Homo sapiens: one gene and its partners. The protein of the gene in region 1 interacts with the protein of each later gene in a biochemical or structural test. Each region holds a gene or a part of one and is shown in the gene's direction. Other genes may lie near its edges. The genes, in order: CSNK1A1, HNRNPC, ZRANB1, KPNA1, CHRM3, ADAP1 and GLI3.

Evidence for each region.
Region 2: of the proteins of CSNK1A1 (region 1) and HNRNPC, one has a biochemical effect on the other in vitro, tested with the Homo sapiens proteins (one study listed by BioGRID).
Region 3: of the proteins of CSNK1A1 (region 1) and ZRANB1, one has a biochemical effect on the other in vitro, tested with the Homo sapiens proteins (one study listed by BioGRID).
Region 4: the proteins of CSNK1A1 (region 1) and KPNA1 form a complex in vitro, tested with the Homo sapiens proteins (one study listed by IntAct).
Region 5: the proteins of CSNK1A1 (region 1) and CHRM3 form a complex in vitro, tested with the Homo sapiens proteins (one study listed by BioGRID).
Region 6: the proteins of CSNK1A1 (region 1) and ADAP1 form a complex in vitro, tested with the Homo sapiens proteins (one study listed by BioGRID).
Region 7: of the proteins of CSNK1A1 (region 1) and GLI3, one has a biochemical effect on the other in vitro, tested with the Homo sapiens proteins (one study listed by BioGRID).

What each region holds. Positions count from the first base shown.
Region 1 is NC_000005.10:149,505,972-149,510,164, reverse strand, and holds part of CSNK1A1 (casein kinase I isoform alpha), read left to right. Parts: intron 1-211; coding exon 212-286; intron 287-3,031; coding exon 3,032-3,138; intron 3,139-4,193.
Region 2 is NC_000014.9:21,227,381-21,231,573, reverse strand, and holds part of HNRNPC (heterogeneous nuclear ribonucleoproteins C1/C2), read left to right. Parts: intron 1-501; coding exon 502-577; coding exon of another isoform or gene 578-616; intron 617-1,207; coding exon 1,208-1,255; intron 1,256-4,193. UniProt on the Homo sapiens protein: Binds pre-mRNA and nucleates the assembly of 40S hnRNP particles. Interacts with poly-U tracts in the 3'-UTR or 5'-UTR of mRNA and modulates the stability and the level of translation of bound mRNA molecules. Single HNRNPC tetramers bind 230-240 nucleotides.
Region 3 is NC_000010.11:124,972,825-124,977,017, forward strand, and holds part of ZRANB1 (ubiquitin thioesterase ZRANB1), read left to right. Parts: intron 1-820; coding exon 821-892; intron 893-1,375; coding exon 1,376-1,574; intron 1,575-4,193. UniProt on the Homo sapiens protein: Ubiquitin thioesterase, which specifically hydrolyzes 'Lys-29'-linked and 'Lys-33'-linked diubiquitin. Also cleaves 'Lys-63'-linked chains, but with 40-fold less efficiency compared to 'Lys-29'-linked ones.
Region 4 is NC_000003.12:122,466,048-122,470,240, reverse strand, and holds part of KPNA1 (importin subunit alpha-5), read left to right. Parts: intron 1-2,811; coding exon 2,812-2,919; intron 2,920-4,193. UniProt on the Homo sapiens protein: Functions in nuclear protein import as an adapter protein for nuclear receptor KPNB1. Binds specifically and directly to substrates containing either a simple or bipartite NLS motif.
Region 5 is NC_000001.11:239,900,030-239,904,222, forward strand, and holds part of CHRM3 (muscarinic acetylcholine receptor M3), read left to right. Parts: intron 1-4,193.
Region 6 is NC_000007.14:897,221-900,554, reverse strand, and holds the end of ADAP1 (arf-GAP with dual PH domain-containing protein 1), read left to right. Parts: coding exon 1-22; intron 23-390; coding exon 391-453; intron 454-1,064; coding exon 1,065-1,136; intron 1,137-1,293; coding exon 1,294-1,522; intron 1,523-1,605; coding exon 1,606-1,634; 3' UTR 1,635-2,655; downstream 2,656-3,334. UniProt on the Homo sapiens protein: GTPase-activating protein for the ADP ribosylation factor family. Binds phosphatidylinositol 3,4,5-trisphosphate (PtdInsP3) and inositol 1,3,4,5-tetrakisphosphate (InsP4). Regulates the incorporation of CD63 and CD9 into multivesicular bodies.
Region 7 is NC_000007.14:41,964,503-41,968,695, reverse strand, and holds part of GLI3 (transcriptional activator GLI3), read left to right. Parts: intron 1-772; coding exon 773-1,100; intron 1,101-2,054; coding exon 2,055-4,193. UniProt on the Homo sapiens protein: Has a dual function as a transcriptional activator and a repressor of the sonic hedgehog (Shh) pathway, and plays a role in limb development.

The sequences.
Region 1 (4,193 bases):
AAAATTAAATTCTTAGAGAAGAAACTTACATCAGAAGTTAACAGTTTGGGAAAAATTTTTTTTAGATGTATTATACTTTGATTTTTTAAATTCTGGGTTAAAATTTCTCTTGAATCTCACAGGTATATGTTTATATGTCTAGTGCGTTAAACTACCATGGTTCTTCTCAGTAGCACTGAGTATATCTTTTTTATTTTATTCTTTTCCACAGGCTGCAACAAAGAAACAAAAATATGAAAAGATTAGTGAAAAGAAGATGTCCACGCCTGTTGAAGTTTTATGTAAGGTAAGTATGCATGATGAATATTAAAAAAATATAAATGAAGCCAGGCACAATGGCTCACACCTGTAATCCCAGCACTTTGGGAGGCCAAGGCAGTAGGTCACATGAGCCCAGGAGTTCAAGACCAGCCTGGGCAACATAGGGAAACCCCATTTCTACCTTAATAGATAAATGATCCGGCTGGGCACAGTGGCTCAAGCCTGCAATCCCAGCACTTTAGAAGGCCGAGGTGGGCGGATCACTTGAGCCCAGAAGTTCCACAAGACCAGCCTGGGCAACATGGTGAAATACCTTATCTACCAAAAATACAAAAATTAGCTGGGTGCAGTGATACACGTCTGTGGTCCCAGCTACTCAGGAGCCTGAGGCAGGAGGATCACTTGAGCCCGGGAGGCTCCAATTGCAGTGGTGAATCTTGGCTGTCTTGCAAGGATCTGAGATTGTGCCACTGCACTCCAGCCTAGGTAACAGAGTAAGACTCTGTCTCAAATGAGTGAATGAATGAATGATCCAGGAAGAAAAAGGAACATTTTATTTGCCAGCTCTGGAACTTGTAACATTGAATTAGGTAGCTATTCACCATTTTAAATTTACATTTTTATTATTCTAAATATCTTTAACAAGGACTTTTAACATAGGGGTCTTTTTAAATAAGTGTTTTGCTAGGCACAGTGGCTCACAGTTGAGGAGCCACTTGGTAGGCTGAAGGAGGGTGGATCGCTTGAGCCCGGGAGTTCCAGACCAGTCTAGGCAACATGGTGAAACCCCATCGCTACAAAAAATGCAAAAATTAGCCTGGCATGGTGACGCATGCCTGTAATCTCAGCTTCTTGGGGATGCTGGGGCAGGATGCTTGAGCCCAGGAGGTCGAGGCTGCAGTGAGCCAAGATTGCACCACTGCAGTCCAGCTTGGGTGACAGAGTGAGACCCTGTCTCAACAACAACAAAAATAAGTAAAATAATAAAAAATAAGTTAAATAAACGTTTTAAGTAAGTAAAATAAGTGTTTTATGTTTCTGGTTTGTTAGGGCTCTCTAATCTGTTGAAAACTAGGGGTAAATAAACAGGGCAGGTAAACATTTTCAATAGAACCTCATTAATCTATAAGAAAAAGTAAGAAATATTCTCCTTACCCTAAACTAGTGCTGGAAAAGAAAGGTTATCAACAATTAGTACATTAAGGAACAGGGAAACATGCAGACAGATTGGAGCAATCCAAAATAGCAGCTGTCCAACAATACAGGAATACAGAAGACAGTTTGAATCACACTCATTTTTTCTGAAATTTTCAACTTCATAGAAAGGCAATTGAGTTTAGAATAGAGAGGTATTTGTGTCATGATGAATAACCATGATCTCATCCATAAAAAGAAGGCCATATGGTCTTTCAGACAAGAAAGAATTGTATACCTGAAATTAAGTACAAAGCAGTATACAAATAAATAGTTGAGGGAAGAAATCAGTGAGAGTTAAAATAGTAATTATAAAGTGGTGAGATTGTTTTCAGTCTCATTGTCATACTGTTTACCATTAACACGGGCCATAAATGTATATAAATGTTGAGTTTTAGAAAGATGTATAATATGTATTATTTTACATCTTTTAACATATGTATATGTTTCAAGTGGTCACCCAATTTATATCGGTGCAATCAATAAAAAATGTTGCAAGCATTTCCATTCTATCCTTCCTAACTCCAGGACATGAGAAATTTCTCATAAGGTTGTAGAAAGAGATTGTAACTTTAACTCTACAATCATAAGGTTGTAGAAAGAGACTGCCTCCTTTAACTTTACCACTCTCCACATTGGCATTTACTCTAGGAGAGGAGATATAGAGGTTTGTGCTCTTTTAATATTTTGTATTTCCACATTGCTGATTGGGGAAATCCTTTTGGTGACTGATACCTAGAGCCTTGAAAATGTTTATACATTGTTGAGAATCTTTCCTAAGGAGCTAAATGGAAAAATTCTATGCCCACAGATGTACTTAGCAGTATTATTAATAATAGAGAAAAATTAGAATACATCCAAATGTTCAATTATAAAGAACAAGTTAATGATGTATATACTAGGTAGAATATCATGCAACCATTTAGAAACTTCTGAAGGCTGGGCATGGTGGCTCACACCTGTAATCCCAGCACTGTGGGAGACCAAGGAGGCCAAGGGGGGCAGATCTCTTGAGCTCGGGAATTTGAGACCATCCTTGGCAATCTGACAAAACCCTGTCTCTACTAAAAAATACAAAAAATTAGCTGGGCGTGGTAGCTCGTGTCTGTAGTCCCAGCTACTCAGGAAGCTGAGGTTGGAGGATCGCTTGAAGCCTGGGAGGTGGAGGTTGCAGTAAGCTGAGATTACACTACTGCACTCCAGCCTGGGAGACAGATTGAGACCCTGTCTTTAAAAAAAAAAAAAGTTCACGAAGAGGCGCGACTTTGATAAAATGACAGGTTTTAACAAGTGGGCTATGTAAGTTATTTAAGAACATAGTACTGTATAGGAAAAGCACTATATGGGAAGAACATATGTATTTCTTCTACTAATATTGTACATAATAGGGTAGGTAGGGTCATGAAATTTTATTTAAATTTATGAGGAGACCAAGCCATCATTTTAGCTCTCATATCTTCCTATGAAATGGTAAAATATCCCGCCCAAAAATATCTTTTTGCTTATACTTAAATGCATTTATTTTTCTATCTTGAAATGTTTGTTTTTAACTTTGTTTTAACCCTTGAACCTATAGGGGTTTCCTGCAGAATTTGCGATGTACTTAAACTATTGTCGTGGGCTACGCTTTGAGGAAGCCCCAGATTACATGTATCTGAGGCAGCTATTCCGCATTCTTTTCAGGTCAGTTTTTAAGGTATTTTAAGATTATAAACTCTGTGAGGGAAATTGGTTAAATTTACCTAACAAATTCATTCTGATAAATACTAAAGTAAAGCAGATCTAGCTAACATGAATAAAAGGTTTCAGAAACTGATTTATTTGGGACTAATTTGGCATTTTTCTATTTGTAGTGTAAATAGGTGATTTTAGTTTGGAGTGGATAGAGAGTTGAATCATACTCAAAGTAGAATGTAACTTTTCCAGAATAGTTATAATTCATATTAGATATAAGTGGCTGTCAGTGCCTTCTGGAACTCTCCAACTTTGTACAGTACCAAATAAAAAGCAATTAAAATATCACATAGTCATGGAGTCTGATCAAGTGGTAGCAGTCCTAAACTAGGGTAGGGTTCCTTAGGCACAACCCAGAACTGGTCTTGAAAAAGGGGGGGGAATAGATTACATGTGGCTCAAACTCTTAGTTGGAAGAGAGTAAGAATTGAGGTAATCCGCCCAGGTACGGTGGCTCACGCCTGTAATCCCAGCACTTTGGGAGGCCGAGGCGGGCAGATCGCTTGAGGTCAGGAGTTAGAGACCAGCCTGCCCGACATGGTGAAGCCCCATCTTTACTAAAAATACAAAAATTAGCCGGGTGAGGTGGTGCTCACCTTTAATCCCAGCGACTCGGGAGGCTGAGGCAGGAGAATCTCTTGAACCTGGGAAGCGGAGGTTGCAGTCAGCTGAGATCCCCCCAGTGCACTCCAACCTGGGTGACAATGAGGCTCTGTCTCAAAAGAGAAAAACAAAGAATTCAAGTAATCTGCCAGGTGCAATGGCTCACACCTATAATCCTAGCACTTTGGGAGGCCGATGGGGGTGGATCACCTGAGGCCAGGAGCTCGAGACCAGCCTGGCCAACATGGTGAAACCCCGTCTCTGCTACAAATACAAAAATTAGCTGGGTATGGTGGCAGGCGCCTGTAATCCCAGCTACTCAGGAGGCCGAGGCAGGAGAATTGCTTGAACCTGCGAGACGGAGGTTGCAGTGAGCCGAGATTGCACCACTGCACTCCAGC
Region 2 (4,193 bases), on another chromosome or scaffold:
GATTCCAGCACTTTGGGAGGTCAAGGCAGATCACGTGACCCCAAGAGTTCGTCCCTACGAAAAATAGAAAAATTAACCAGGCGTGGTGGTCCCTGCTACTTGGGTGGGAGGATCACCTGAGCTTCGGAGGTCTAGGCTGTATTGAGCCATTATTGCATCACTGCACTCCAGCTTGTATGACAGTGAGACAGTGTCTTAAGGAAAGATGAGTTGTTTTGTTCCACATTTTCTAATTTATGTGTCTGTGTGATTTTCTAAACTTCGTAGTTTGTATTAGCTGGGCATGGTGGTGCCCGCCTGTAGTGACAGTTACTCTCGAGGCTGAGGCAGGAGAATCGCTTGAACCGGGAGGTAGAGGTTTCAGTGAGCCAAGGTGACACCACTGCACTCCAGCCTGAGCGAGAAAGCGAAACTATGTCTCAAAAATAAAAAAAATAAACTTTGTAGTTTGTTTTACCCGGATACAAAGTTGTCATTAACATTTTTACTTTTGTTTTTCAGATATTAACCTGGCTGCAGAGCCAAAAGTGAACCGAGGAAAAGCAGGTGTGAAACGATCTGCAGCGGAGATGTACGGGTCAGTAACAGAACACCCTTCTCCGTCCCCTCTACTCAGGTCCGGAACTTTATTATTTATAACTGCATTGTGTCCATCAGTGGGCATCTTCTCTTTCTGTTTTCTGGGTGTGGGGAGGTTTAAGTGTACTGTGTTTTATCTGTGTATAAATAAGGTTTTATTATTTTTGTGTTAATATGTCTCTTTTTTGCCCTAGAGAAAATTTCTAGAGAATTAAAAATCCCTGAGGTTTTTGCTATTGATATTAAAGAGTAGTTTGATATTTATAGCATAACCTGAAATACTTATACAGGATCGTTGAGCTTCTAAGACACTAGAGAGTAAGAGAGGGTAGAAGTGTGGTATAAGAATGCTTAGTTTACCATTCTGTTTTTCAGTGTTTAGTTTAGCTATGTCGTATGTGGAAATCTTAGCGAATTTTAACCTGAATTTCCAATTTGACCGCTACATTTCCAGTGGTCTAAGGTGATTGGAATTGAGTGATTTATTGTATGAATGATTGGGGATCATTCAGTGCTAATCTTGTTGATCTATTTGTTGTGGTTTATTTGGCATGGTTCTCCCCTCACCTGACATTGTGAATTAGTAGAAACATTTCCAAATTAACCCTTTTCGGTATTTATTTTTCAGCTCCTCTTTTGACTTGGACTATGACTTTCAACGGGACTATTATGATAGGTATGTTAAAATGTTTTGTATTTCTGCTAAACAGCTATTTAGTGAGAACCATTTCGTTCTTCTGGTTTGTGGTGATGAACATCAAAGATGTTTTCAAACATACTCCCCTAACTCCAAAACAAAAAAACACCTTTTTCTAAATCATTAAGTAGATTATTAGGTAGGGTGATACTGATTTTAATGCATTATTTCATAATCCCTGGCTAACGTGGTGAAACCCGTTTCTACTAAAAATACAAAAAAATTCGCTGAGTGTGGTGACTAGGGACTGGGTTATGGGTGGCTTTGGGTAACAGATTTAGAACTGTTGATAGCAAATGCTTAACAGGAAATAGGATGATGTGCTTAAGAGTGTTACCACATTGACATTCTGATAACATCAGTCTCAGTTAACATGAAGGAAATGTTAAGACTTATTTGGCTTGTCGCGTTCAAACTCATGCAGTATATGTAAGTATATGGAGCAAACTATTGTATGCAATAGACTTTAAACATGCAATATATAAAGCATATTACTTTATATACTATTTGTCTTATAATGCCAGTATTCCAGTCATTAGTATTTTAATGTTATTACTGTATATAACAATTCAGTCTGATTTTGGAATAAAAATTACTGATTGGGGAATGCTTAACATTTGAACTGAGTTAATCAGTCATGCATGGGAGTTGTAAAGGAATCAAGTCAGCCGTTAAATACCATAAAGTATACACTGAAAGTGTCAGACATGAAAGTATAGACTTTCTGTTTGAGAAATAACCTCACAGAATATGGTACGTAGTCATTAGAAGGCCAGAAGAGTAAGGCCCGAAAAGGAATTCAAATCCAGATTGTAAAGGGCCTTGAATGCCATAATAAAATGGTGTGGTTGAGCATCATTAATGCATCATCAAAATGTTTTTTTCATTTGACATTAGCGGTTTCCTCAGATTTTTTTTTTTTTTTTTTTGAGACAGTCTCGCTCTGTCGCCCATCCTGGAGTGCAGTGGCGCAATCTTGGCTCACTGCAAGCTGCGCCTCCTGGCACAGCCTCCTGAGTAGCTGGGACTACAGGCGCCCGCCACCACACCCGGCTAATTTTTTGTATTTTTAGTAGAGACGGGGCTTCATCGTGTTAGCCAGGATGATCTCGATCTCCTGACCTCATGATCCGTCCGTCTTGGCCTCCCAAAGTGCTGGGATTACAGGCGTGAGCCACCACGCCTGGCCTGATTTTTTTTTTTTTTTTTTTTAAATACGGAATTTTCCTCTCGTCACCAGGCTGGAGTGAAGTGGCGTGATTTTGGCTCACTGCAACATACGCCTCTTTGGTTGAAGCAATTCTCCTGCCTCAGCCTCCCAAGTAGCTGGGGTTACAGGCATGCACCACCACTCCCGGCTAATTTTTGTATTTTTAGTAGAGGCTGGGTTTCACCATGTTGGCCAGGCTGGTCTCGAACTCCTGAACTGAGGTGATCTACTCGCCTTGACCTCCCAAAGTGCTGGGATTACAGGTGTGAGCCACTGTGTCCAGCCCTTTCCTCAGATTTTTACAGTTATGTGTGAACATTTTGAAAACTAAGGAGTTCTGTAATTCTTCATTTTTATTTTTGTTGAAATTTTTGAAATTCTTAAAAAATAAAAATCAGCTGGGCACGGTGGCTCACACCTGTAATCTCAGCACTTTGTGAGGCCAAGGCAGGTGGATCATGAGGTCAGGAGTTCAAGACCAGCCTGGGCAATATGGTGGAACCCCGTCTCTACTAAAAAAATACAAAAATTAGCTGGGCGTGGTGGCACGCGCCTGTAGTCCCAGCTACTCAGGAGGATGATGTAGGAGAATTGCTTGATCCCGGGAGGTGGAGGTTTCAGTGAGTTGAGATCGCGCCACTGCACTCCAGCCTGGGTGACAGAGTGAGACTCCTTCTCAAAAAATAAAACAAAATAAAAATCAATGGAGAACTTCCAGTTGAAAATAAATCAGGACATTACTAGTGAACTCAGCCCATTTATTCCTGAAATTGCAATTTTTTGAATTTTTGCAATCAGACCTTGGTAATGACCTAATGCAGTAGGATATAAATAACTCCGACAAGCTTAGCATTCCAGTAATGGAACATTAGGCATAGATGGGTTAATTATTGGTCAGGTGTCTTGAAGGCACTGAAACCCAGTGAGTTTGTCTGAAGCATCTGCCCTTTAACCCTTTCTGCACATGGTAATTGCTTGACCACATTTAAAATATACTCATGCCAGCTTCTCCTATAGGGATTCTTACACAACTGGTCTTATGCAGACTTTCTTAAGTACTAGTATATTTTTCAGTGCTTTCTATGTGTTCTTTTGTCCAGTCAGAGTTGAGAATCATTAATAAAAGATTAAGGACGTGGTTGTGTTTCTGTGTATTATTATCCTATTTCTTTGTCATGGCTCAATTCAGACCAGTTTAATAAACTCACACTTTTGTTGGTATAATTTCAGGGATGTCATGGACTCTTAGTTGATGTTTTTTATGAGTGTATCAAGTTTTAGCAGTATACAGTGACAGTCTTCTTGAAAATAGTTCTCATTAAAAAGTCTTTTCTTGGCAAGGCACATTGTGAATGGGGAAATTTGAAAATTTGAGCAGGGAATTTGGAAAACATTAGTTGAGACAATGAGATATATACTGCAGAGAAATCTAAAGAAATCACGTTTGCAGAAATATCTTCACAGAAATTGGTGGCCTCTTCAGATTTTCAATAGACAACAATATATTAGGTTTGAGCAAAAGTAATTCCGTTTTTGACATTTCTTTGAACGGTAAAAAGCAAAACCGCAATTATTTTTGCACCAGCCGATACTAGTAGTTACTGTCGGATATATTGCTGCATGTTATTGTCAGTGAAAAGTAATGTCTTCTATTGTTCTAACGTCAGCCAGTAGATAATGATTACTGATAACTAGTGGAGCAACTAG
Region 3 (4,193 bases), on another chromosome or scaffold:
TAGAGTGCAATGGGCGTGATCATAGCTTACTGCGCCTTCAACTTCTGGGCTCAAGTGATCTCCTGCCTTGACCTCCTGAGTAGCTAGGACTATAGGCACATGCCACCCACCCCTGGCTAATTTTTAATTTTTTTGTAGAGATGGAGTCTCGCAGTATTACTCAGGCTAGATCTCAGTGTTTTTAATTTTTATGTTCAGACAAACGGATTTTTACAAATTGTAGGAGATAGTAACTAAGTTTTCTGAAACTGGAGGAAGTTTCATTTGAAATGCACTTGTTCTGAGTATTTAAGCTTACCCCAGAATGATTAGATTTTTAAAAATTTATTTTTTATTTTTATTTTTTGAGACAGGGTCTTACTCTATCGCCTAGGCTGGAGTGCGGTGGCAGGATCACGGCTCATTGCAGCCTTGGCCTCCCCAGGCTCAAACAGTTCTCTCACCGTAGCCTCCTGAGTAGCTGGGACACAGGTGTCTGCTGCCTTGTCTGATTAATTTTTGTATATTTTTTGTATAGAGACAGGGTTTTGCCGTGTTGCCCAGGCTGGGCTCAGAATCCTGAGTTCAAGCAGTATGCTGGCCTCAGCCTCCCAAAGTGCTGGAATTATAGGCGTGAGCCATTGCACCCGGCCCAGAAAAGAAATATTTTATATCACACATGTTACACTGGTATATTAAGAAAAAGCTATCTGATAACCTTCAATGGAAAGGGAGTTATTTTAGAGAAAGTTACTAGTAGGTAATTAATAAGTGTAATTAAGTATAAGTTAAGTGTAAGTTATGAAACAAAAGATCTTTTAAGTTTGCATTTTCTTTGTAGATATTGAAGATTTGCCCCCAACAGTCCAAGAAAAATTATTTGATGAGGTGCTTGATAGAGACGTTCAAAAAGGTAAGCATGGAATTAATGAGTATAATTTACCTTTCATCTGATCAAGTAAGTTTTGTTTAGTAAGGCATGGTGTAGTTTGGTGTGTAGTCAACTTGCTTTATTTTTATTTTAAATTAAAGACGTAAAGTCCTGAAGTTCAGTGTTATATTGTATGGTTCACTGTTACAGAGTGAACAAATAAAGATACAAAAATTTTAAAACCTTGGTTCTCCGCTTCCTGTTCCAGAATGTATATATTTCTATATGAAACACTTTTTAGAAAATAAAACTGTAAAGAATTTAAAAGTTTATTAAATTATTCTAGAGACAGAAGATGTTTCAAGTACTCAAAAGTTTATATTTCAATTGGTCAATTTTATTTAGGTGTTTATTGGTAAATTACATATAAACCATTTTATAGCTAGAAAATAGGTTCTTCTCCCCATGAGTATTCTCTAATGACATAGGTATGGAAATGAACATGTATTTAAATCCATCGTACAGAATTAGAAGAAGAATCTCCAATTATTAACTGGTCCTTGGAATTGGCTACACGTTTGGACAGTCGACTGTATGCACTTTGGAACCGGACTGCAGGAGACTGCCTACTTGATTCAGTTCTACAAGCTACCTGGGGCATCTATGACAAGGACTCAGTGCTTCGGAAAGCCCTGCATGACAGCCTGCATGACTGTTCACATTGGTGAGCTGGCATTCTGCCCTGTTTCAACCCAGGAGTGCATTTGCTGGATTATTTCCTTGTAGTGGTGGGATACTTTTTATGTCAGTTATATTTTCTATGGAAACTGGAGGAAAAACAGTTCATTTTGGACATTAAAATACTTTGAACACGTCCATGGTTTCTGTTTTTGTTTTTCCCCCAAGAAATGAGATAAAAGCAAGAATCAATGGTTTTTATACATTTTTTTGCTAAATTTTAAAATAGAAACATTTGAAGCTTTAAAATGCAAGCATTTATTGTTTCTATAAGACACAGGCAGTATATTTGAACATTTCAAATGCAGCATTTCAAGTTATATATAGTAGCCTTAAATATTGATAAGGCCGTTGCTCATCTTTTTAGGGATTGATTGACTGATTGATTGATTGATCCATCGATGGAAGCAGGGTCTGGCTCAATTGCTGTGCTGGAGTGCAGTGGTGCAGTCTTGGCCCACTGCATCCTCCACCTCCTGGGCTCAAGCCATCCATCCACCTCAGCCTCCTGAGTAGCTAGAACTACAGGTGCTCATCACCATGCCTGGCTGTTTTATGTATTTTTGGTAGAGATGGAGTTTTGCCATCTTTCCCAGGGTGGCTTTGATAATCCTGATCTCAAGCGATCCGCCTGCCTGGGGCCCCCAAAGTGCTTGGATGACAGGCCTGAGCTGCCGCACCCAGCCTTATTGAATATTTGTGTTCACATAAGAGGTTATCTTGACATTGTGTTACAAGTTTTTTTCCTTCCTGAGGGAGTCTTAAGATCACATTTTTTATTTTGCAAATTTTCAAACCCATGGAATAATTTTAAAAAAATTCAGTGCAATAGATCCTGGTATTTTCTTCATTCAGTTGAGCAGTTATTAACATTTTGCCACACCTGCTCCATGTCTCCATACAGAAAGACTCGTGGGTCAATTCGTTGTAGACATCATGATGCTTTACCCTTCAAAATATCAACATACATCTTTCCAGAATAAGAATATTGTCCTACTCACCCACATCCCCATTCCTACATCTAAGTAATTCAACATTGATTCTGTTATCTAACAGTTCATAATCACATTTCTTCAATTGTATCAAAGTGTTCTTTATATATATATTTTTTAACAGCATGCAATCACTGGAAAAATAATTGTTTTTGTGAATGAATAGTTCAGTCTTTACATTTGTTTGACTTATGTGGTATTTTTTTGGTTCTTTGAACATTATCTCATTTAGTTATTACAGGCATGAGCCACCGTGCCCGGCCTATAAATTACTTTCTTGAGAGCTAAATTGTAGATCAAAGCATAATGCAGTATGGCTGGGGTTTGTGGCTCATGCCTGCAATCCTATTGCTTTGGGAGGCTGAGGCAGGCAGATCATTTGAGGCCAGGAGTTCAAGACCAGCCTGGCCAACTTGTTGAAACCCTGTCTCTACTAAAAATACAAAAATTAGCCAGGTGTGGTGGTGCATGCCTATAATCCCAGCTATTCAGGAAGCTGAGGCACGAGAATTGCTTAAATCCAGGAGGAAGAGGAGGTTGCAGCGAGCCAAGATCGTGCCACAGCACTCCAGCCTGGGTGACAGAGTGAGACTGTCTTGTGGGGAGCGGAGGGGGAAGCATAACGTAATAGAGTAACAATTTGTGGGCACATTAGAGAAATAAAATAACTTCCTGGATGACCTGACTGGATGTATAATAAAGCTAAAGAATGAATGTGTCACTCCGGTAGTTTTAGTCAATTAGTAATTGTCCTGGAGAGAGGGCTCTTTTGTGCCTCTTAGTGGAGATGGCTGTCTGGTAGTATGAAGTAGGTTCATCGGGCTGGGTAAGCCTGATGCTGGTCAGTGCTCTGCCGGTCTGGCCCTCTTGATCAGATCCTGTGGTCACCAAGCAGCTTCCTGTTGCTGATTTTCTTAGCTTCCTACTGCTGATTTTCTTGACCACTGCTATGGGCCTGTCTATGTCAAGAGGATGAACCTGGTTTGGTTCCTAAGACAGTGGGTTCTTGGCATTGTGGTTTCACAGGTCTGCCTTGTAGTTTTGGTTAATGTCACTCTGCCCTGTAAGATGGAAAGCCAGGTTTGAACTGTGGTAAATCTACCACTTTGCAGGTTCTCTCTAAAAAGGCAGCCAGTAATCTTTTCTTTGGTGGTAATTTCCTTTTTTTTTTTTTTTTTTTTTTTTGAGGCAGAGTCTTACTCTGTCGCCCAGGCTGGAGTGCAGTGGCATGATCTCGGCTCACTGCAACCTCTGCCTCCCGGGTTCAAGCAATTCTCGTGCCTCAGCCTTCGAAGTAGCTGGGATTACAGGTGGCGCCACCATACCTGGCTAATTTTTTGTATTTTTAGTAGAGATGGGGTTTCACCATGTTGCCCAGGCTGGTCTCGAACTCCTGAGCTCAGGCAGTCCGCCCACCTCGACCTCCCAAAGTGCTAGGATTACAGGCGTGAGCCACCGCGCCTGGCCTTTTCTTTGGTGGTAATTTCCTGATCTGTTGAAAGGCCAAAAGTACACTGTGGATTTTAGAAGTGATGTCTTTTTTTTAGTGATGAGGGTTTTTGGTGGTGGTGTTTGTTTTTTGAGAAAGGGTCTTGCTCTGTCACCCAGGCTGA
Region 4 (4,193 bases), on another chromosome or scaffold:
GTGCCCCGCCTACTTATTTAGCTTATACAGAAATGTTTGTAATCTTATGTATATACACATTAGCTTACATAATCAAATGCATTGTTGCTATTTTAAACAAAATTTTACCTGCTAAATCAATTTTTAAGATGTTTTAATTTTACATTCACTTATTCATTCTTTGATGTTCTTCCTTTATGTAGATCCAAGTTTCTGACCTGTATCATTTCCTTTTTGCCAAAGAATTTCGTTTAACATTTCTTGCAAAGCAGGTCTACTGACAATAAATTTCCTTAGTATTCTGAAAAAAATCTTTATTTTTGTTTCCACTTTTGAAGGATGATTTTGCAAGGTTCAGAGTTTCTAGGTTGGTGGTTTTCTCTCTCAACACTTCAAATATTTCACTTCACTTTCTTCTGGCATGTGTGGTTATCATTCTTATCTTTATTCATGTGTTAAGTACAGTGTTTTTACCCTTGTCTTTTAGGATTGTTTTTCCTTTATTTCTGATTTTCTGTTGTTTGAAAATGATATCCCTAGGTGTAGTGGGATTTTTTTGGCCTTTGTCCAGCTTGGTGTTCTCTGGGCTTCCAGTGGTTTTGTTCCCAGACCAAACTGGGTTGGGCTGCTGTTTCTCATGGCCCAATAACAAGATGCAGATGAACTGGGGAGGAAGAGAGTTTTTATTTTTGTACCTGGTTACAGGGAGAAGGCCTAGAAATTATTGCCAGACCAACTCGAAATTACAAAGTTTTCCAGATATTATATACCTTTTAAGCTATATGTCTGCGTGTAAGTGTGTATTCATCTAAAGACATAAGTGATGAAACTTCTTTTAATCTGTAACTAAGGTCTGAGTCTTGAAGACCTTCCTCTGGAGTCTCAGTAAATTTACTTAATCTAGGTGCTGAGGTGATTACCCTTATCTTGTCTCCTGCTCGTGGAGGTTTGGGGAGTTCTTTCAGACATCCAATAAACTTGTTTGTGGAGGCCTGGGGAATTTCTTTGTTATGCTTTAAGGCCCAGGAAAGGCCTAGGCAAAACTCTTGGTGGGCTTTTGTTAGATTCCAGCCTTTGTATAAGGGCACTGGCTTTTTTTAGCTTTTAATATTTAACTTAACCAGTCAGTCAGTACTGAAACAGTTGTTATGGAGCCCTGCATTAATGAGACATGGCCTGCTACAGTTTGGTGTCTGATACTAATTTGGGGGAAATTCTCAGTCATTATTGTGTCAAATATTTCTTTTGTTCTTTCCTCTCCTCCTGATAGTTCCATTCCATGTTTATTATACCATTTGTAGTTGTTTCAGTTCATAGATACTCTGTTCTATTTGTGTCAGTCCTTTTTCTGTTTTCTTTTCAGTTTTAAAGATTTCGAATGAGATTTCCTTAAGCTCAGAGATTATTTCCTTAGCTGTGTCTTGTTTACTAAAAAGTCGATCAAAGGCATTCTTCATTTCTGTTGTTGTTGATCTCTTGCATTTCTTTTTAGTTCTTTTTTAGAATTTCCATCTCTCTCCTTACATTGCCTATCTGTTCTTGTATGCTGTCCACTTTATCCATTTAAAGCCCTTAGCATATTAATCGTAGTTTTAAATTCTTGGTCCGATAATCTCAACATCACTGCCGTGGCTGAATCTGGTTCTGATACTTGCTCTGTCTCTTCAAAATGTGTTTTTTATATTTTAGTATGCCTTGTAATTTTTTCTTGATAGCTGGACATGTACTGGGTAAAAGAAACTACTGTTAAATAGGCCTTTGGTAGGTGGTTTTGGTATTAAGAGTAATGCTGATCTCCTAGAATGAGTTGAGAAGTACTGTCTCTGCTTCTGTCTTCTGAAAGAATATGATTATGTGCTGATTAGTATTAAGTTAAATCTCAGAGAGAACCTCCTGTAGATCTTGGGTGTTCTTTTTGTGTTGTACTCTGCGTTATGAATTTTAGGTCTCTTGGCCTTCTCAGCTCTGAACTGTGTTTTCTCAAATCCAAGGAGCATCTAAACTCTGGTTGAGTTTACCTTTCCTGCACTGCAGCCTGGAACTGTCTGCATAGTAATCTGAGGCAGTATTGGGGCTTATCTTGGGTTTTTCTTTCTGAGATATCACTACTCTGTGGTTTTTATTGTCCAATGGCTGAAACATTATTTTATGTATTTTGTCTGTTTTTAGTTGTTCAGCGTGAGAGAGGGTAAGTTACTGTTACTCCATCATGGCTTGATGAATAAATGTGCTGCCCAGGATTCATAAGGATATAATGGTAATCACCCTCGTTGGCTGACTTTGGAGAGAACTAGTCTCCTTTGCCTATACACATTAACGGAGCTGCTTTAAAGGTAGTGCTTAAGCAGTCATCATTTGTTGCCACTGGTTGCTGGATAGGTTGGGAAGGTCAGAAGCCACAGTCCACCATCTTTGGAGATTAGGAGGGAAGTATTAAGTCATTTGAACATAGTTTTTATTTTCATTTTCCTTGGTACATTGTTAGGACTGTCCTGATGTATACTTTACATAAAGGGATGAGGAAAATGGCCAAGCATGACCCAGCTCCTTTTTCCAACCTTTTTTTTTTTAATGTCATATAGTGTCAGACCTCTCTTAGTAAGTTTTACATTATCAAGTGTTGTTTATAGCATGTTGTAATAGTTAATTATATTTGATTATAAGACTATGGAGAAATCTGAAATGGTTACTCATCAGTAAAAGCTGACAGCTTTAGAATTTTAAAAATGATTTTCAAAGACTTCACTTTGAATGGGGTGCCTAGTATTTGAATGTTGAACTCCCTTGTGTTAGAATTTACATTTACATTGCTACCAATCTTTTATCTTTCAGTTATTCAAGCGGAGAAATGTTGCTACAGCAGAAGAAGAAACAGAAGAAGAAGTTATGTCAGATGGAGGCTTTCATGAGGCTCAGATTAGTAACATGGAGATGGCACCAGTAAGATAATGAACTCTTTTCAGTGTTTTTGTGATGAAGATATGAGATGTAGATTTCCTTTTGAGTTTTAAAAAAGGTTAGATGGCTACAAAAAGTACTTGGCATTTCATTTTTAAAAAGAATATGCTTAATCTCATGGTTCATTAAATGTTTATTATATTTTGGATAAAGTGCAGTTAAATTATAAAGATTAATTCTGCTCTAAAAACTTAACAAGCTAATTATAAGATAAAATTACTCTTTAAAAGTTGAATAAGAATAGACACCTTATTTATTTATTTATTTATTTATTTATTTATTTATTTATTTATTTATGTTTTAGAGACAGGGTCTTGCTGTGTTGCCCAGGTTGGAGTGCAGTGGCGCAATCGTAGGTCACTGCAACCTCGAACTCCTGGGCTTAAGTGATCCTCCTGCTTTAGCCTCCCAAATAGCTGGGACTACAGGCATGTGCCACCATGACTGGCAAATTTTTAAATTTTTTGTGGAGACAGGATCTCACTGTGTTGCCCAGGTGAACTCCTGGCCTCAAGTGATCCTTTTGCCTTGGCCTCCCAAAGTGCTAGAATTACAAGCTTGAGCCATCACACCAAGCCATAAGAGATACTTTAAAGAAAATAATGATTTTTTATTGATTTACAAAATTGACCTGTTTGTATGATTTAAAAACTTGATTCCACATCAGAACTCTTGGATTTTTCTGTTGTAAACCATTTTGTTACTTTTTTGAAGTTAACATGAAGAGATAAAAGTCATGCTTTATTTGTATGGATTAGACCTATCTAGATTTCTAGAGTATTGTAATTACGTAATTTTAAAAATAGGTTATATATGTGTACATATATATATATGTGTACACACACACAGTTTTTTTAAAAAGAAAATTATCTCCTAAAAGGTACTGTTGTTTGTAGTAACAAAAAAAGTACAATTAAAAAAAATGAAGAAAAATCTTTCTTCCGCTTAGCCACCTAGTATTTTTCTCCATTGGCAACTAGTATTACTAAATTCCTATTTATTCTTTCTGAGAACTTTTGTATATTAAAATGTTCTCCTCTCCCCCACCTTTTTTTTTGGTAAATGGTGGCATACTATTCATAGTATTTTGTAGTTTTTATTTTTATTTCATTTCATAGATCTCCAGTTTACATGAACCAGCTTTCTTTGAGAGTTGGGAGGGTAGTATTATTTCCTTTGGAATTCATACAGACATAGCCAATGCCATCATTTTGTGATGAAAGTTTCTAGGCCCTTCAGAAAGCCAGTCTTTCCAA
Region 5 (4,193 bases), on another chromosome or scaffold:
CCTGTTTATTCCTGAGCATTACAAGGAAAGACTTCCTGTAGGTCCCCTCACCAATATCATTCAATTCAATGAGTGTAGACTGTGAACTTCCTTGACTCAAAATATCCTAATGCTATGGAATAGCTGTTGAGTCAGGATGAGGAAGGAATATTAAACATAGGAATGATACCTTCTACTCAGAAAATCACCGTAAACTGAGGGCTCTTAGCCCGGGGTTATCACTGCTTCATTTGGGTCTGACCTACAGTCTTGATTCTCAGGAAGTTACATATTACCTATGAAATAATAGATATACCTGAAGTAAAACATTTGGTGACTCTCATTTCTAATAAGTACTTTTAGATATTCTTTTTTTTTTTTTTTTTTGAAATCCTTATGACCGGCTGATCACTTTCTCCTGTTGTCATCCTGGGTACCGATAGGACCTCCGTTGCTGAGCCTCCAGAGAACAGTCCTTTTAATGAGGCCGTGGCCCCAAGGCCTCGGAGAAGTTCATAGAAAATGTCTGAAAGAAGGTGGGAGGGATCTTGTTTCCTGGCCCTATAGGGACATTGTCTTCCTTGATAAAGCTGGGTACAGCCTTGATATGAATAGATTGGGGAGCACCAGGAATGTACCTCACCTGGGCTGTCGAGAAAAGACAGTGTGCTCAGAAGAGGTATGGCAGGTGCTGAATATTCCCTTGGAGGGACGAAGGCAAGAAAGGCCCCTACAGCAATGAGGGGAGAAAATCCACAACCCAAGTAGAACTAGGATTTCTTATGTGTGAGACAATACATTGCTCATTTACATGTAAAGTGTGTATAATATTTTTAATCCATCGTATTCAGGCGAGCAAGATCAGTCATTTCATTTTTGTATAACTTGCCTCGAAGCTGCCTGTTGTGGCCCCATTCTGCATAGCAAATCACCACAAACTTAGCAGCTTACAACAAGGTTCCCTGTTCAGGGTCTCAACACTGAAATCAAGGTGTTCGCCCAGCTGAGTTTACGTCTTAGGCAAGACTAAGGAAGAATTCATTACCACAGGCATTCAGGTCATCGGTGCTTCTGCCATGGTGACCTAGTGACCTCTGAGCAGCTGCCACCTCTGGGCACCAGACAGGAGGGCATGAGGCACGCATCTTCTTTGAGTCTGATCAATATTATCAGATGCGACCTCTTTTTCCTCCAACCTTCTCCGCATTTAAAAGCAACAGCAGAGTGTAAGGCAAGATTCCAAGCCCTCCTTGGCAACCATCACCAATATCTGCCCCCTTTTAACTCTCTTCTTCACTTCCTTCTGGCTTCGGAAACTTTGGGATTTTTTTTTTTTTCCTCATTCGGGACATTACAGATTGAGCTGAAGTCTTCTTTGTCCATCACCCTCAATCCTAATTTTATCTTCCTCCTCCAAAATACCACTGCTAATATATGATTTGCATGTAAATCTTTCTATCCTTCTATGACAATTTTAATTATATTAATATACTAAAGGTGGTATCTGTCTATATGTCTGTATACAACCTTTAGTATACAGGCATGTACAATCTTTAGTATACTATTGCTGTGTTTTATTGTAAACTAAATTTTATCGTGTTGTATTTGTCATCCCACAACTTGCCTTTCTTACTTAACAAAGTATTTTTAGATGGTTCTAAGTTAATATATATCTAGTTGATTGCTTTTATCTGCTGCATAGTATTCCCTTTTATGAATGACCTCATTTTTGAATTCATTTCAAAACGAATGGTCTTATAGATTTTCCTCATTTTTGTCATAAAAATAAATGCTTCAGTTAATAGCCTTGGGCGTGTCTCCTTGTGTACATACGAATGCAATAATTTCTAGAGGGTAGATACCTAGCAGTTGGATTGCTAGTTCATGGTGTACATGCCTTTTCAGTTTTAATTAATACTTCCAAATCACCTTTTTGTAGTACTTATTATCAATTTATTCACTCTGGATGTGGCAAGGGGAGATTTTTCTTATTTTCCTAGTGTGTAGGTCAGTATACCATGCATTGATGCTCAGAAGACCAAGTGTTTGCAGTTTCAAAGCCCTTATCTTTAAATCCCTTCTCTCTACCAGAGTATTTAAAATCTACTTTAAAAAGCAAAAAATGAGGAAACACTGGTTTCTTTCTCCCTGTGTTTCTAAAGTAACAACACAACCCTGAGAACACAAAAAGTTAGCATTGGGAGAAGGGAGGCAAGATCCCCGTTAATACTTCAGAGTATTAGCCTACAACACCACAATGCTTCTTATCTTCTCCATAATCTACAGATCAGGCGATAGTATTCTAGTTTTATAGATGAAGAAAGGTCGTCTCAAAATAGTCAAGTAATTTGGTAAGTTTATACATCTCCTGGGCCAACCCAGAACTCAGACCCAAATCAGCAAAACTCCAAAGAAAGACCACAGCTTTTCAACTCTGCTCTATTGCTTTCTAATAAAAAAAATTAATGACGATGAGAACATCATCTTTATTAATAGAGTGGTATTAATGTATCTCATCACATCAGAACCCCAAATGAGTACCCACGACTTCCTAAACATTTCTGTCTTCGTAGCTAGAAGTCACAGTGGGTTTTAGTAGTGTGCTTTGCTTAAAATTTCTGCTTCCCATTCAAAAGGCTTTATTTTCCTCAAAGTTATGTTCATATACCACATTCCCTTCTTTTCTCGTTGCTTTAATATCTGAGGTTCTTAGAAGGAAACCCAAGGGTAGCATTAGGACTGCCATGGTTATTGACTATTAACTCGTTAACTTATTAACTCTTGTCCTTTGGATGTTGTATCACATGGGTAAGCAAATGCCTATAAGTCATTTCCCTCTAATGGTTCTTGTCTACCTTTAAAATTTTTGCTCATCTCATACTGCACATCTATTGCATGACAGAAAAGGACTGGAACATTTTTAAATAAGGAAAAGCACATCTCTGAGAATTTCAGAAACGTATTAGATATTGAATGAATGTCAAAGTGTAAGAAGAATGATGGCCAATGGTAGATATGACAAAGAGTACAGGTCAAAGATAAACAGGTATTTAATTAACCTAATATAGAGAGCTAAACTCACCTATAGCTGACTTTCCTCAATTCTGGCTTCTTTCATTTTCTGTATTCAAACAAAGCATAATTGGACTAGAATACTATTCATTTGGGGGGGCTCTTCAGATTCACAGGATGAAATGAACTAAAAGAAAACAACTGACCTTAGGCTAATTTCGAAAATTTTTACTTATATTCTTCAACAATATAGGTCAACTGAGCAAATTAAATTGCTGTTGAATGTATACAAACATAATGTGATTATCCACAGAGAGTAATTTGATATTGCCTAAATAACTTTGTGTTTTTAAAAATCTTTTATTTGTATTCCATCTCTTACCTGGGGGTGAGTTTATGAAATGCAGAGGCTGTGGAATCCCTGAATTCCACAGCACCAGTCACCATAATCTAAAGCTAGCAGTGGTTAAATGAGCTTGTGCTGATATTGACAAAGACAGAACACCTTTTAGTTGCAGGTGACAGAAAGTATCTCTGGTAGCCCAGGCAACAAAGGAAAGGCAAGGTCAAGGAGGTGGTGTTCACCTCAGGAGTGGCTAAATTCAGGTTTCAAAGGACATCATCATCATGCTGTCTCTGTTTCCCATACTCCCTCCCATCTCTCTCCTTCCTTCATGCCTTTCCTCTATGTTTGCTTACTCTAGATTTCCCATGTGGTGGCAAATAGGGTGATCAGCACCTAGTAATTCCAAATATAAGAGAATCACTGTCTCATTCCAACATCCACATCAAATCTCCAAATCAACCCTCCTGCCTGGGTCTTCTTCATGTTCATTGTTGTGGTAGAGGAGCGAGGACCATCTGATTGATGCCTGTCCCAAACTACATACTGTGGGTGACAGGCTATTTCCAAAAAGACAGCTGAAAGAAAGACAAATAGTAGATACCCACTGCATGGCTTTAACCAACAAAGATGAAAGAAGAAAGAAGTATCATCAGCACAAATATGAATATAGCATCGGGATGATTGGGCATTACATTATTTATAATAAAACCAGCATGGCATAAGTCCTGAAAATGGGGCTACAGGACATGATTACCTCCCATGGGACATGAAAGCAGAGACCTAGATAGTAGAAATGAGGAAACGTAGCTGCTGTGTTCAGGAATCTCAGGAGTGAAGGAGATTTCAGAAAGAGAAA
Region 6 (3,334 bases), on another chromosome or scaffold:
CCCAGGGGCCGGCGACGCAGATGTGAGTGGCGGCCCTGCGGTCAGCTCCAGGGCAGACAGGGGTGGTGGGGTGGGGGGTGGACGGAGCCCTCGTGCCCTGAGTCTGGGATGATGTTGAGCCCTAGGGTGGGCCTGGGACTGGCCAAGGGCTCACCCTGACGTGCCTGCAGCCCTCCTGCCTCACTCTAGAACTTCAGCTCAGCCAAAGGGGAAAGCGGGGAGGGAAGGGGTGGCAAGCAGAGGCAGAAATGTGGATCCTGCGGAGGCTAAGCCAGGCCTGGGCCCTGACCTGGTGGCCCGGGGTGAGGGGAGCACAGAGGGGCACAGCCAGGGAGGGGCTCGGCCTGAGCTGCACTTCTGAGGTCCCCTGCCTGGTGTGTCCTGCCCTAGCTGGTGCCAAAGCTCTCCAGGAACTACCTGAAGGAAGGCTACATGGAGAAGACGGGGCCCAAGGTGGGTGTGCCGCACGTGCGGCCTGGGGTGGCCTGGGGTACGCCATGGTGGGTCTCGGACTGAAGTGCAGCAGCCTTGCCAGCTGCCGCCTGTGTTTTAAACTGGTGTCTGGTGGGTCCTCACAGCCCCTTGTCTGTGCCTGGCCGGGGTCCCCGAGGACTCGGGCCACTGTCCTAGGCTTTGGTTAGACCCTCCCTGCCCGCTCACGTCTGACCAGCTTCCTCACCCACGGGACCGTGCACCTGCGCGGCCAGGGGCCCACATCTTGCCATTCCCTGAGGCATAATGTGGGAGGGAGACACAAATCCTGGGAGTCTTGGTGGTCCCGGAGGAGAAGTGCAGGTGTGAGGGCTCGTAAGTGAGGCCTGGGCCCCCATCTGGGGCCCAGGGAGGGCTGGGGGACCTGGAGGAGCAGGAGGGAGGTGCCGTGTGGAGGCTGGAGGACAGGCGTGTGCGGAGGCCTCGTGGGGCGTGGCCAGCGGCAGGCGTGAGTGAATGGAGGTGACTGACCCGGGCCAGTCTGGGCCCTGCCCTCCGGGGTGTGCTGTGGTCAGCTGGATGTAGGGCCTGCCTCGGCGACCTGCCGGTCACGGGCCCTCTCTGACCCACAGCAAACGGAAGGCTTCCGGAAGCGCTGGTTCACCATGGATGACCGCAGGCTCATGTACTTCAAAGACCCCCTGGTAAGGAGGAGCTGTGGCCCCAGCACGGGAGGGCAGCTCACTGGCTGGGGTTGCCAGATGCGTGACCAGGAGGGCGGGTGGCCTCCCGAGTCCTGGCCTGAGTGAAGCGGGGCTGGAAGGGACATGGCCCCGCCTCCAGTGCGGTCCCCACCCACAGGACGCCTTCGCCCGAGGGGAAGTCTTCATTGGCAGCAAGGAGAGTGGCTACACGGTGCTGCATGGGTTCCCGCCGTCCACCCAGGGCCACCACTGGCCACATGGCATCACCATCGTCACGCCCGACCGCAAGTTTCTGTTTGCCTGCGAGACGGAGTCCGACCAGAGGGAGTGGGTGGCGGCCTTCCAGAAGGCGGTGGACAGGCCCATGCTGCCCCAGGAGTACGCAGGTGAGGGGGGCGGGCGGCCGGCGGCCTGGAAGGGCTCCCAGCTCCCCGCCGCTGTGACAACGCTGGACCCTGTTCCGTTGCAGTGGAGGCGCACTTCAAGCATAAACCTTAGCGAGTGCGGCTGGAGGACCACGGACATTGGACTCACTGTGGCTGGACGGAGGGGACCCGTGGATGGGGGGGCTCTGGCGTCCTGAGGCCACCTGGCCCCACCTGCTCCTCAGGGCAGCCCGGCGCGGCCAGGTAGGGCCCGAGCTTCAGCTTCCAGGATGCTTCTCTGGAACCTCAAGGCAGGCAGCCCAGGCCCTGGGCCTGATCTCTAACCCCGTCATGCTGCTGCTGACCACACCCAGCCAACCTGCCCCTCCCTGACCCGGGGCCCCCTTTCCTCCAGGGCCCAGTCTGGCTCCCGAGCTCAGACACAGCCCCCAGGAGCCGCCCACCACGGCTGTGGGAACTTCCAGGCCTCAGCGCAGAGCCCTGCTTGGGGCCAGCACGGTGGGCAGCTGCCGGCCGCTGGGGACTGGGCCCTGCTCGCATGCCGCCCCGCCCTCCCCCCACCTCCACGACTATTTATTGAGCGCCTGTTGTGTGTCACGGGGCTATGAGGGCCGTGGGGTGTTTGGGTGGATTATCCACACAGGTCCCGGCCCCTGCCCGGGCTGGAGTTGCCACAGCCTGTGCTCCTGGTCCTCACCTGGAGGGGCCAGCAGGCTGCCGTCCCACCACACGTGGCCTCTGCGCCCAGCACGGTGCTCGCCGACAGTGGTGTCTGAACCCTTGGGGACGAGGGCCTGGGCCGCGGTGAGGCCACCAGAGGCAGGAGTGGCCCTGGGGGTCCCGGGCACTGTCGCGCTTGCTGCAGGCGGCCCAGCCGTGTATTTATTTTTCACCTATCTCCTTCCTGTCAAGGCAGGCCGGGCTCCAGGGCTCCCCTTGCGTGGGGCATGTAGGTGGGGGAGGCGTCTGCAGGTCACCTGGGGGGCCCAGCCCTCTCCCAGCCTTGCCTGGCTGAGCTGTGTTCCAGGGGAGCCCTGGACAAGCCCTCATAGGCAGGGAGGGGGTTTCCGAGGCCAGGCATCCGCCGCCCCGTGTCGCATCCTGGAATAAAATGTGGCTCTGGCATGGTTCCAGCTGTGTGTCCGAGGATGGAGTGGGGAGGAAGTTGGGCTGGGAACACGTGGCCCTGCCTCCCTGGCTTCAGGAGAATCTTCGTCTGCTCCCAGGGACCTGACAGGGCCCTCGCTCCCTGAGGTTTGGAGGGAGGACACGGTGTCTGAGCTAGTCACAGCGCCATGCTCCTTGTACACGGGAGACGGTCCCTACCCGAGGTGCCCCCCAGCACCCCTTCCCCAGGTGCCCCCCTTCCCCAGGTGCCCCCTCCATCTGAGGCCCGCCAGGCAGTTCCTGGGCAGAGTCCACAGCCTGAAAGCCAAGCCAAGCTCAGCATGAAGGACAGTGTGGGGGATGCATCCCGGGTCGGGGGTCCCCTGTGCCTGCCAGCCCACCCCCCCAATGCTGGGCCCCTCAGCCCTCACACAGAACATGCTGAATCCCACTTCTCCAATGAGGAGCTGGGACTCTAGGGCGGAGTAGAGGTCTCCCAATCCCAGCCTAGGGGTCCCCAAGGCAGCTGTGCTGGTGACGAGGATGTGGGCGAGGTACCCCCACTTGGAGCTGAAACCCCAGGCAAGTGCCCCGCAACCTCACCAGGTGCCACGGTCCTAACCCGAGGTGAGAGGAGTGGGCCTGGGTCAGGGAGAGCCCTGGGCTGTGCTGGACACACCCCCGGGGGAAACCAGCAGTGCCCAC
Region 7 (4,193 bases), on another chromosome or scaffold:
TTCTTTCTTCTTTCTTTCTTTCTTTCTTGGTATAGCACAAGCTAAGTGATTGAAGTTTTACCTCTCTCAACTGCTTTTACTGACACCTTGGTTGAGGTTCTACAAAAGCAAGAAAATGTGGAAGGAGGGAGGAGAGGTTACAAAGAGCTTGGCTAACCAGCCCTGAACAGCCTAGAGGGGCTCTTGTTGGAGGAGGTAATGTGTGCTGATGGCGCATATCTTACATTTATGTTTCAGCTGAGCAAAATGAACCTCAAGACTAAAACCACCCGGGATCATAATAATTGCTAACATCCTGTGAACCAATTGCTATTATCCAGGTCTTTTTATACTTGTGTGCTCTCTGGGCTTCACACTTAATTCCTCACAACAATCCCTGAAATAAATGGTCCCTGTTTTATAGATAAGGAAACTGAGGTTTAGAGTGGCTAAGTAATGTGCCCAAAGAATAAAGTGGTGGAGATGGGATTGGAACCGAGGAAGTATGTCTGCAGAGTTGGCGATTGGGGCAGGATTCCATGGCTGATACCATGCCAGTCACACTGCAGCTAGCATTCTCTGCTTTCCATTGCCTCCTGTTGCCCATCAGCCTGGTGGTCCATCCGTCATTCTGGCCAAAAGTGGCCAGCTCCATTCACCAGAACATAGTTTTTCTTCTCATTCAACCAACTGATGATCTTGAAGATCTCGATATGCATGAGCTCTCATTATTGGCTCCCTTTCCTTGACCCTCCCTGGTGACATTTCTTTCCTTTCCACTTGACCCCAACAGACATCTCAGCCAAGCCCTGGTGGTCAGTCTTCATGCAGCAGCCAACAGTCCCCCATCAGCAACTATTCCAACAGTGGGCTCGAGCTTCCTCTGACCGATGGAGGTAGTATAGGAGACCTCAGTGCCATCGATGAAACCCCAATCATGGACTCAACCATTTCCACTGCAACCACAGCCCTTGCTTTGCAAGCCAGGAGAAACCCGGCAGGGACCAAATGGATGGAGCACGTAAAACTAGAAAGGCTAAAACAAGTGAATGGAATGTTTCCGCGACTGAACCCCATTCTACCCCCTAAAGCCCCTGCGGTCTCTCCTCTCATAGGAAATGGTGAGTTCTACATCAGACCATGCATCTGCTCAGGGTTTTTTTTTCTGTTCTTTTAAATGCAGGCCCTCAGTTTTATGTTTGCTAGTTTCTCCACCAGTCCTAAAATGACGCTGTAACCATCCGTTAATGTTTAGCCCATTCAAGTTGCCTTTTGGGATTGTCCATATTTTAAAAACAGCTAGGAACAGGATAATATTGAGAAAAAAATGTGACTGTGCATGACTCATATTCTGATGGTGAAATCATAACTGTTAGATTAGGGTAAGGGAATGCCAGCAGTGGAGGCATCTGTGGTTGGAACTCTGTCTCTGGTTTCCAAAATTTAAAACCACGAGGTTAGCAGCCACTTTTATTTATATTTACCCAGTTCAAGGAAAGTCAGAAATCCCTCCCCACTGTCAGTCCCCAGGTCAGTTTGCACTTCTGAGATTACACTTCTGAGAGCACCTAAGGGGTGAAGCTCTTGCCTGCACCAACACAGGTGTTACCTGTTGGTAGGATGTGGCATGAACAGGACGCCCTGAGCGTGAATGTGAAACTCGTGGAGTACCTTTGCCTGGGGACTTGCCTGGAACTCAAGCGTTGTGTACCATCACAAGATTCTTTTTGTCCTTGCACAGCGCTTGGGGAGGGGCTTCAGTGAATCGAGGGAGTTGTTATTGTTTTGTTTAAGCCAGGCATCAGCAAACTACAGCCTGCGGCCATCTCCAGCCGCCCCTGTTTTTGTAAAGGAAGCTTCATGGACACCCCGCCACGCTTGCTTGCTCACTGCTCTCTGTGGCCGTGTTGGGGCTACACTGCAGAGCTGAGTAGTTGTGAGGCAGGCAATGTGGCCTGGGACACCAGAAATAGTTCCTAGCTGGCCCTTTACAGAAAAGGGTTGCTCATGCCTGGTGTAAGTCATGCTCGAAGGGAATTCATCTCCGCATGGTCTCTCCCTTTCTCTGTCTCCAGGCACACAGTCCAACAACACCTGCAGCTTGGGTGGGCCCATGACGCTTCTCCCGGGCAGAAGCGACCTCTCTGGGGTGGACGTCACTATGCTGAACATGCTCAACAGAAGGGACAGCAGCGCCAGCACCATCAGCTCGGCCTACCTGAGCAGCCGCCGCTCCTCAGGGATCTCGCCCTGCTTCTCCAGCCGCCGCTCCAGCGAGGCGTCACAGGCCGAGGGCCGGCCGCAGAACGTGAGCGTGGCCGACTCCTACGACCCCATCTCCACCGACGCCTCGCGCCGCTCCAGCGAAGCCAGCCAGAGCGACGGCCTGCCCAGCCTGCTCAGCCTCACGCCCGCCCAGCAGTACCGCCTCAAGGCCAAGTACGCGGCTGCCACAGGAGGGCCGCCGCCGACGCCCCTGCCCAACATGGAGAGGATGAGCCTGAAGACGCGCCTGGCGCTGCTCGGGGATGCCCTCGAGCCTGGCGTGGCCCTGCCTCCAGTTCATGCCCCGAGGAGGTGCAGCGACGGGGGAGCCCACGGCTACGGGCGGCGCCACCTGCAGCCGCACGATGCGCCGGGCCACGGCGTGAGGAGGGCCAGCGACCCGGTGCGGACAGGCTCCGAGGGCCTGGCCCTGCCTCGTGTGCCGCGCTTCAGCAGCCTCAGCAGCTGCAACCCCCCGGCGATGGCCACGTCCGCGGAGAAGCGCAGTCTCGTGCTTCAGAATTACACGCGGCCCGAGGGCGGCCAGTCCCGAAACTTCCACTCGTCCCCCTGTCCTCCCAGCATCACCGAGAACGTCACCCTGGAGTCCCTGACCATGGACGCTGATGCCAACCTGAACGATGAGGATTTCCTGCCGGACGACGTGGTGCAGTATTTAAATTCCCAGAACCAAGCAGGGTACGAGCAGCACTTCCCCAGCGCCCTCCCGGACGACAGCAAAGTGCCCCACGGGCCCGGTGACTTTGACGCGCCCGGGCTGCCAGACAGCCACGCTGGCCAGCAGTTCCATGCCCTCGAGCAGCCCTGCCCCGAGGGCAGCAAAACCGACCTGCCCATTCAGTGGAACGAAGTCAGCTCCGGAAGCGCCGACCTGTCCTCCTCCAAGCTCAAGTGTGGGCCGCGGCCCGCTGTGCCGCAGACTCGCGCCTTTGGGTTCTGCAACGGCATGGTCGTCCACCCGCAGAACCCCTTGAGGAGCGGGCCTGCTGGGGGCTATCAGACCCTCGGGGAGAACAGCAACCCCTACGGTGGCCCAGAGCACTTGATGCTCCACAACAGCCCCGGAAGTGGCACCAGTGGAAACGCCTTCCATGAACAGCCCTGTAAGGCCCCGCAGTATGGGAACTGTCTCAACAGGCAGCCAGTGGCCCCTGGTGCACTCGACGGTGCCTGTGGTGCCGGGATTCAAGCCTCAAAGCTGAAGAGCACCCCCATGCAAGGGAGCGGGGGCCAGCTGAATTTCGGCCTGCCGGTAGCGCCAAATGAGTCAGCTGGCAGCATGGTGAATGGCATGCAGAACCAGGACCCAGTGGGACAGGGGTACCTGGCTCACCAGCTCCTCGGCGACAGCATGCAGCACCCGGGGGCAGGCCGCCCCGGTCAGCAGATGCTTGGGCAGATTAGTGCTACCTCACACATCAACATCTACCAAGGGCCAGAGAGCTGCCTGCCAGGGGCTCACGGCATGGGCAGCCAGCCGTCAAGCTTGGCAGTTGTCAGGGGCTACCAGCCATGTGCCAGCTTTGGGGGCAGCAGGCGCCAGGCTATGCCGAGGGACAGCCTTGCTCTGCAGTCAGGACAGCTCAGTGACACAAGTCAGACCTGCAGGGTGAATGGTATCAAGATGGAGATGAAAGGGCAGCCCCATCCGCTGTGCTCTAATCTGCAGAATTACTCTGGTCAGTTCTATGACCAAACCGTGGGCTTCAGTCAGCAAGACACGAAAGCTGGTTCATTCTCTATTTCAGACGCCAGCTGCCTGCTACAGGGGACCAGCGCCAAAAACTCTGAGTTACTTTCCCCAGGTGCTAATCAGGTGACAAGCACAGTGGACAGCCTCGACAGCCATGACCTGGAAGGGGTACAGATTGACTTCGATGCCATCATAGACGATGGGGACCACTCCAGCCTGATGTCGGGGGCCCTGA